2 linked regions of the Homo sapiens genome follow. The protein of the gene in region 2 purifies or fractionates together with the protein of the main gene of each other region. This does not show direct contact. Each region holds a gene or a part of one and is shown on either strand. Other genes may lie near its edges.

Region 1 (3,522 bases), on a different chromosome or scaffold from region 2:
AGAACCTTCATACCCATCTTATGCTCCCCTAATAAATTTACATCTAAGTCCTCCAATGACTGATGTTAAAGCAATGTGGCCAAAGCAGTGGCACATTACCAGAGACTAACCTTACTCTATCCAACTCACCTCTGTTTCATCTCCCAGTACATCTTCTTCATTTGCCTCCTCTTCAGCTAAAGAATATTAAAATATTCAGGTCAAGCCCTGCTACAAAACCATCTTGATCACTTACCAAGGTTAAAATTATAATCACTTTGCTTTCCCCCAAAAAATCCAACAGTGAAGGCAGAAACTGATGCACATAAAATCTGCTACATCTGGAGAAGATAAAACCAGATTTCTACCTAACATTAATTACAAATGTGAACTCCAGTTGGACTGAAGAACTAAATGTGAAGTCAAACTAGAGAATTAATTTTAAAAGTAATGTTGGGCCAGGCACCGTGGCTCTCTGTAATCCCAGCAATCTGGGAGGCAGAGGCAGGTGGATCGTTTGAACCTAGGAGTTCAAGCGACCAGCTTGGGGAACACAGCGAAACCCCGTCTTTACAAAAAACATAAAAAAATTAGCTGGGTGTGGGGGTGTGCGCCTATAGTCTTAGCTACTGGGGAGGCTGAAGTGGGAACATTACTTGAACCCAGAAGGCAGAGGCTGCAGTGAGCTGAGATCATGTCACTGCACTCCAGCCTGGGTGACAGAGCAAGACCCAGTCTTGAATAACAAACAAAAAAAGTATGTGGAAAAGTATCTTTGAGATTTAGTGGTGGGGAAAGATTTGTTTAAAAGAAAAACAACCCAGAACCAAAAGTAAGAGGTGAAAAATTGAAGATTTTTCAAAACTAAGTACTTCTACTTAAGGATAGCACAAAGAAACTTAAAAGACAAATGACAAGACATTTGTTTTTGTTGAGACAGAGTCTTACTCTGTCGCCCAGATAAAGTGCAATGGCACAATCACAGCTCCCTGCAGCCTCCCCCTCCTGGGCTCAAGGGATCCTCCTGCCTTAGCCTCCCAAGTAGGTAGGACTACAGGTGCACATCACCACACCCAGCTAATTTTATTATTTTTCTTAGAGATGGGATCTCACTATGCTGCCCAGACTGGTCTCAAACTCCGGGCCTCAAGAGATCATACCACCTTAGCCTCCCAAAGTGCTGAGTTACAGGCATGAACCACCCCGCACAGCCAAAGAAGATATTTGTGCCTAAAATCAACAAAACAATAGTTATTAGAATATAAAAGAAATGCCTGCAAGCCAACAGGCAAATTATGGGAACCTCAACAGAAAAATGGGCAAAGAAGAAACCCAAAGAATTGTGAAATGTTTAAACTTTTTTCATGGAGAACATAAAACAGCCAACAAATTAGCAAAACTTAGGCCACTTGATAGGACAGTGCCAAGTTTAGGTTTGTGAAGATACAAGAACCCTTATGTACTAGTAATGAGACTGCAGATCTACAGAGCAATTCTGGAAAATAATTTGGGAGTCCTTAGTCACATTAAGTATATATTTATGAATATTAATTAGCAATACCATTCTTGGGCATATACCCCAAAAAGACTTTCACAGGAACATAAGAGCATAAAATAAGTAGTTCATAATAATATACTATATACTATTAGTATATAGGATATAGTATACTATATCCTACAGGTTAAGCATCACCAATCTGAAAATTCAAAACCTAAAATGCTCCTAAATCTAAAACTTTCTGAAGGCTGATATGATACAAGTGGAAAACCCCACACCTAACCTCATGCAATGGGTCACAGTCAAAACTTTGTTTCATGTACAAAATTATTTTAAATACTGTATAAAACTACTTTCAGATATGTGGATAAGAAACAAATAAATTTTGTGTTTAGGCTTGGATCTCACCCCCAAGATATCTCATTATATATATACACAAATATTCCAAAATCCGAAAAAACTAAAATCTGAAACACTTCTAGTCCCAAGCATTTCAAATATATAACACTCAACCCATAGTATAATATATACTATATACTATTATATACATATAGTATACTATAAGTAGTATCACTTATAGTAGCAGAGGCTTGGTGGCAATAAAATTTTCTGTCACCGAGTGAATTAAGTAAAATGTGTGGTTATCCATCATTGAATGCTATGCAGGAATTAGAATCAACAGACTAGATAACTACACAGTCACATTCCACATGGACGCATCTTTAAAAAAAAAAAAACACAATACTTAGTGAAAAAAATGAGAAATAAAGCAAGGCTATGGCCAGTTATGTAATTACCAATTATATAAATGAAAACATTCTACAAAACAACACTACATAGTTTACCAGGAAAAACACCAAAAAAATACATTCAAACACATTAGAACGGGTGCCTAAATGGGTTGGGGAGAAAGTGAAATGAGGAATAGAAATAAAAGGGAATACGTAAATAAAAATTAGATAGAGGACTTGTACAACCTAAGATGTAGGTTGTACAAGATGGCTGGGCGCGGTGGCTCACAACTGTAATCCCAGCACTTTGGGAGGCTGAGGCGGGTGGCTCACCTGAGGTCAGGAATTCTAGACCAGCCCAACCAATATGGTGAAACCCCGTCTCTACTAAAAATACAAAAATCAGCCAGGCATGGTGGTGCTCGCCTGTAGTCCCAGCTGCTTGGGAGGCTGAGACAGGAGAATTGGTTGAAGCCGGGAGACAGAGGTTGCAATGAGCTGAAACTGCGTCACTGCACTCCAGCCTGGGCAACAGAGCAAGACTCCATCTCAAAAAAAAAAAAGAGAGAGTTTTCTTGATGCCGTTAATTAAGAGCTTACATTGCTAATGACCTGAAAAAAAAAAAAGAAATCTTTTCAGTGTCAAAGCCTGAAAATCCCCTCACTCACATCACTCCGCCTCCACAAAGTACTCACCATGTTCTTCAAGATATGCCTGGAGTCTGTGGATAAGATCTTGCTTTATTCCCTTGGTCTCCAAACCACGAGCAAGACATTCTTGCTTTAGTTCGGCAAGCTGAGGGGAAAAAAATAAAACTTTTCCTTAGTTAACAGGATGAACACCAGTGAATAAAATGGTAGTTCCCACAAGGAAAAGAAAAAAAGAAAATGAAGTTCCATCCCAAATTACTGCCCTTAATTCTACCAAGGCTCTAGGTCCACAAAGATGATCCATTTTCCTCTAACGATATTCAATATACAAGAGGAACTGCCTAACAGATGCTGAAGAATAAACATCACACTTTAATAAAAAACCTCATCTATTTGTATACCTACTAACTGTCACAAATCTCTAGTTATTTCTAAATATTCTGAGGGGGGAAAAAGGTTTTTTTCTTAAGACTACTGTGGCAGCCAGCATATTGGAAGAATGAACCTTCAAGTAGAAAATCCAATGATCTAAAAGCAGATTCTCCTTACCACTTATTATCCCAGATCCGTTATTACAATCTACCATATACATGCATACAGGTCTAACCACCATAGAATTAGGTAGATGCATTAGCTAATGTGAACAATGAATTGATTAAAGGA
Region 2 (3,522 bases):
GTGTTGTCCATGCAGGAAGTGCTCCCTGATTGCTATCCATAGAGGAAGTCCTCCCTGAATGCTGCCCACACAGGACGTGCTCTCTGAGTGCTGTCCATACGGGAAGTTCTCTCTGAGTGCTGATGAACGCTCTTCCTGATGGTGCCAAACCACTCGTGCAGGAAAGGCTGAGGGTCTAATACAACCACCCCTTTATTCACGAGTGACTTTGTTTTCTATCCATTTTGGCATGCAAATTAAGCCCATATAAATATTATCAAGAAAATTGAATTAGCTTGTTTTCTTTGCCCTTGGAGATAGAAGAATGTAGTTTGTTTGCCTGACCTGATAACAGGAAAAATTAGGCTAGAGAAGGCTGAGAGACTACTAGGCTCTTTTGGGATGAGTGGGCACTTAGCATGCTTATCCAGCCACCAGGTCCCCTAATTAGATTGAATGTGTGTAAATAGTTGCAAGCTTCATCCATAGAGGGTCTTTTCACGTTCCAAGGCAGCTTCCGGGTTTTGAGAGGCAAAATGTAGAAGGACTACCAGTGATGAAAATGGAACTGGCTAAAATATTGTCCCTTTTTGTCCCTTTGTAAGCTTTTTAAAAATTTGTTTATCATTTGTGCTGCCAAGACACCTAATCTAACGCAAAGTGTAATTGCTGTAAATTTATCAGAGTTCTGAAGCTGTAATTAAAGGCTTGTCAGTATTTGCATTTTAATCTATGAATGAGGGTTTAATTTTTCACTGTTTTAAGTCACGTCATCCTAAAATGTTGACTCTAATGTTTAGCAGTAATATGCTGAAGCTTTCAGAAGTTGTTTGTAGAATTTATTCTTTAATGAAAAGATTTTTATAAAGTAGAATTTTTAAAACTGATTTTTTTAAGAGCTAATCTTTGTTTTTTTAATACTTAACAGACTGTGTGTTAATTAAGTCAACTTAAAGGCACCTTTTACTTTCTTAAAAAACATTAAAGGCACCTTTTACTTTCTTAAAAAACATATCTGCCAATGGTATTAAGTATCAAATTTCAGAGAAGCTGGAATTTGGTAATTAGTCAGCAAAAATGATGGGCACAGAAAATGAAAGAATACAAATAGAGCATTCAGGACATAGAAAGTGTTTTGGGGTCCCACGTAGAGTACTGTTTGAAGGCTCTGCTCTGGCTTTGTTTTCTAGCAGACCTGCGTTCAAATTCTAGCCCTGCCACCTTCTAAATGTGTGGCCCTGGCACATGGCCTAACCTTTTTTGAGACTCGGTTTCCTAATCTGCACAATGGGAGAACAATAACCTACCTGCCTGTCTGATTGAATTAAGTATGGTAATGTATGTAAAGTACTCAGCAGAGTCTGTATCTTTAGTAGAGACGGGGTTTCACCATGGTGGCCAGGCTGGTCTCGAACTCCTGACTCCGTGATCCACCCACCTCGGCCTCCCAAAGTGCTGGGATTACAGGCGTGAGCCACTGCGCCCGGCCCAGTTTCAGTGACTTCTAAAAACGTAATCTTGGGTTTAAAAATTTCTGCACCAGAAAATTAAAAATTGACAACCTAGAATAATTCAACGCTTCTCTCTTTCAGTTTTCTTTCTCTGTCTTCAGTTAGCCCCAAGAAAGAATTGATTTGGAAATAAAATTTGAATTTGAACTTTGTTCTGTATAGGATTCACCAGAGGCTAGTAGTCCTCATTGGGTACATTTAGGAACCCTCTTCTGCCTGGGATCAGATGCTGGGAGATTTCATTCCCTCACAGGGGAAACTTAACAGGGGAAGCAGGGAAGCACAGGCTGTACCTGCTTCCCACATTGGGAAAATACTGCAGTAAATATGGATGGCCATCAAATTTATATTAAACTGGCTCTGTAAATTCAGATATGTAAATCATAGCTGTATTTTGGCCAGAAATGAATACATAAATAAAAAAACCTACTACTTTCATGTCTAAATAATCTCCAACTAAGTCATACATCCAAATGTTTCTTTAATTATACAAGTGCATGCCCGCCACTCCCTTTCCACTCCTGGCAAAATCAAAGGTTCAAGTGAATGCAGTCTTGGAATGCAGTCTTTAAAATGCCTGATGGTTCATTTACTTCGTGTTGATGTAATCCCACTAAGAGGTAGGGGCGGGCCTGATCCACAGCTTCTTACTGACTTCTCCAAGTCTCATCCCAGATGACCACATTTCATCGCCCAACAGCTACGCTAAACATACTGGGTCCTACTGTGAAAACAGTGTGGCTTGTGTCAGGGATGGTTTCTGAGACACTAATCAAAGGAGGTTTAAGAGAAAATTCAGTCCTGTCTAGTTCTAATAGCTACAAGTTCTCTGCGTCAATCAAAGGCTTGGGACAGGAGGCAGGTGTGTGGGCTACTTTCCAGCACCTCTGTTCTCACTGATGTGAAAAATAGAGTAGGGCTGGATGGCAGGTAGCAACTCAGTGGCTTCAGAGAAGGAGCACAGGCTTTGTGGGGCATGGCCAGTGCTCTGAGGTGCCACCTGTGGCAGAGCAAGTGTCAGAATTTGGTCTTAGTTTTATATCTAGTAAGTAGTTAGCCCCTAGAGAAAAACTAGTGGTTTGGAGAAAGGATATGAGTTCAGCTGCTCATTAAGGGCATGAATCAAATAGATTTGGTAGGATATGATCTCAGGCTGCTTTTATTTTGGGATTAAGCAATACCGATGTTCCCAGTTCAAGTTCAGCCTTCAGTGAATAGCATTTCTGCATTGACTATTATTGACCCTTTGCTGCTCTCCTTCTAAAAGAGAATCTCTTTAAATAAAGTGGTGTTTGGACTCAGATGATATCTCAGCAAGGAACCTGGGCAGTGGAAGGAAGAATCTGAAGGATATAGGACCAGAAAAAATGGTAACATATCTAAATTAATGGGGCCAGGCACGATGGCTCATGCCTGTAATCCCAGCACTTTGGGAAACCGAGTTGAGCGGATCACCTGAGGTCTGGAGTTCAAGACCAGCCAGGTCAACATGGTGAAACCCTGTCTCTACTAAAAATACAAAAATTAGCCAGGCATGGTGTTGTGCGTCTGTAATCCCAGCTCCTCAGGAGGCTGAGGCAAGAGAATCACTGGAAACCGGGAGGTGGAGGGTTCCGGTGAGCCGAGATTGCACCACTGCACTCCAGCCTGGGTGACAGAGCGAGACTCCATCTCAAATAATAAAAAATAAAAATAAATTAATGAGATCCCCATATGTTGAGATATTATGGAATTAGGATGACCATGGCAGAAGCTGGGTACAAAACTAGGAATCTATAGTGGGCAACGGAGGTTGGTGACAAGGTAAATGAGGATATGCTTATTGTAAGGGGTCTGCTTCTCCAACTTTCCACTGTGGGATTTGATTTGTCTCCTATAGACATGCCTGACTTTCTTGTTTGTGCTGGTAAAAACCAAGCCATGAGATTTGAACCTTTTGACTGTCTAGTGACTATTTAATTTTGGATGTTCAAACTGTTCATGAGTGATGTCCTTGAGTTAGTACAGTATATTTATGATTTAGAAAATGTGA

The links. The genes of interacting proteins can lie anywhere in the genome.
Region 1: the proteins of RBMS1 (region 2) and SARNP fractionate together in Homo sapiens (co-fractionation; one large-scale study listed by BioGRID). This does not show direct contact.

Annotation. Positions count from the first base shown.
Region 1 is NC_000012.12:55,800,725-55,804,246, forward strand, and holds part of SARNP (SAP domain-containing ribonucleoprotein), read right to left. Parts: intron 3,005-3,522; coding exon 2,905-3,004; intron 177-2,904; coding exon 130-176; intron 1-129. UniProt on the Homo sapiens protein: Binds both single-stranded and double-stranded DNA with higher affinity for the single-stranded form. Specifically binds to scaffold/matrix attachment region DNA. Also binds single-stranded RNA. Enhances RNA unwinding activity of DDX39A.
Region 2 is NC_000002.12:160,368,299-160,371,820, reverse strand, and holds part of RBMS1 (RNA-binding motif, single-stranded-interacting protein 1), read left to right. Parts: intron 1-3,522.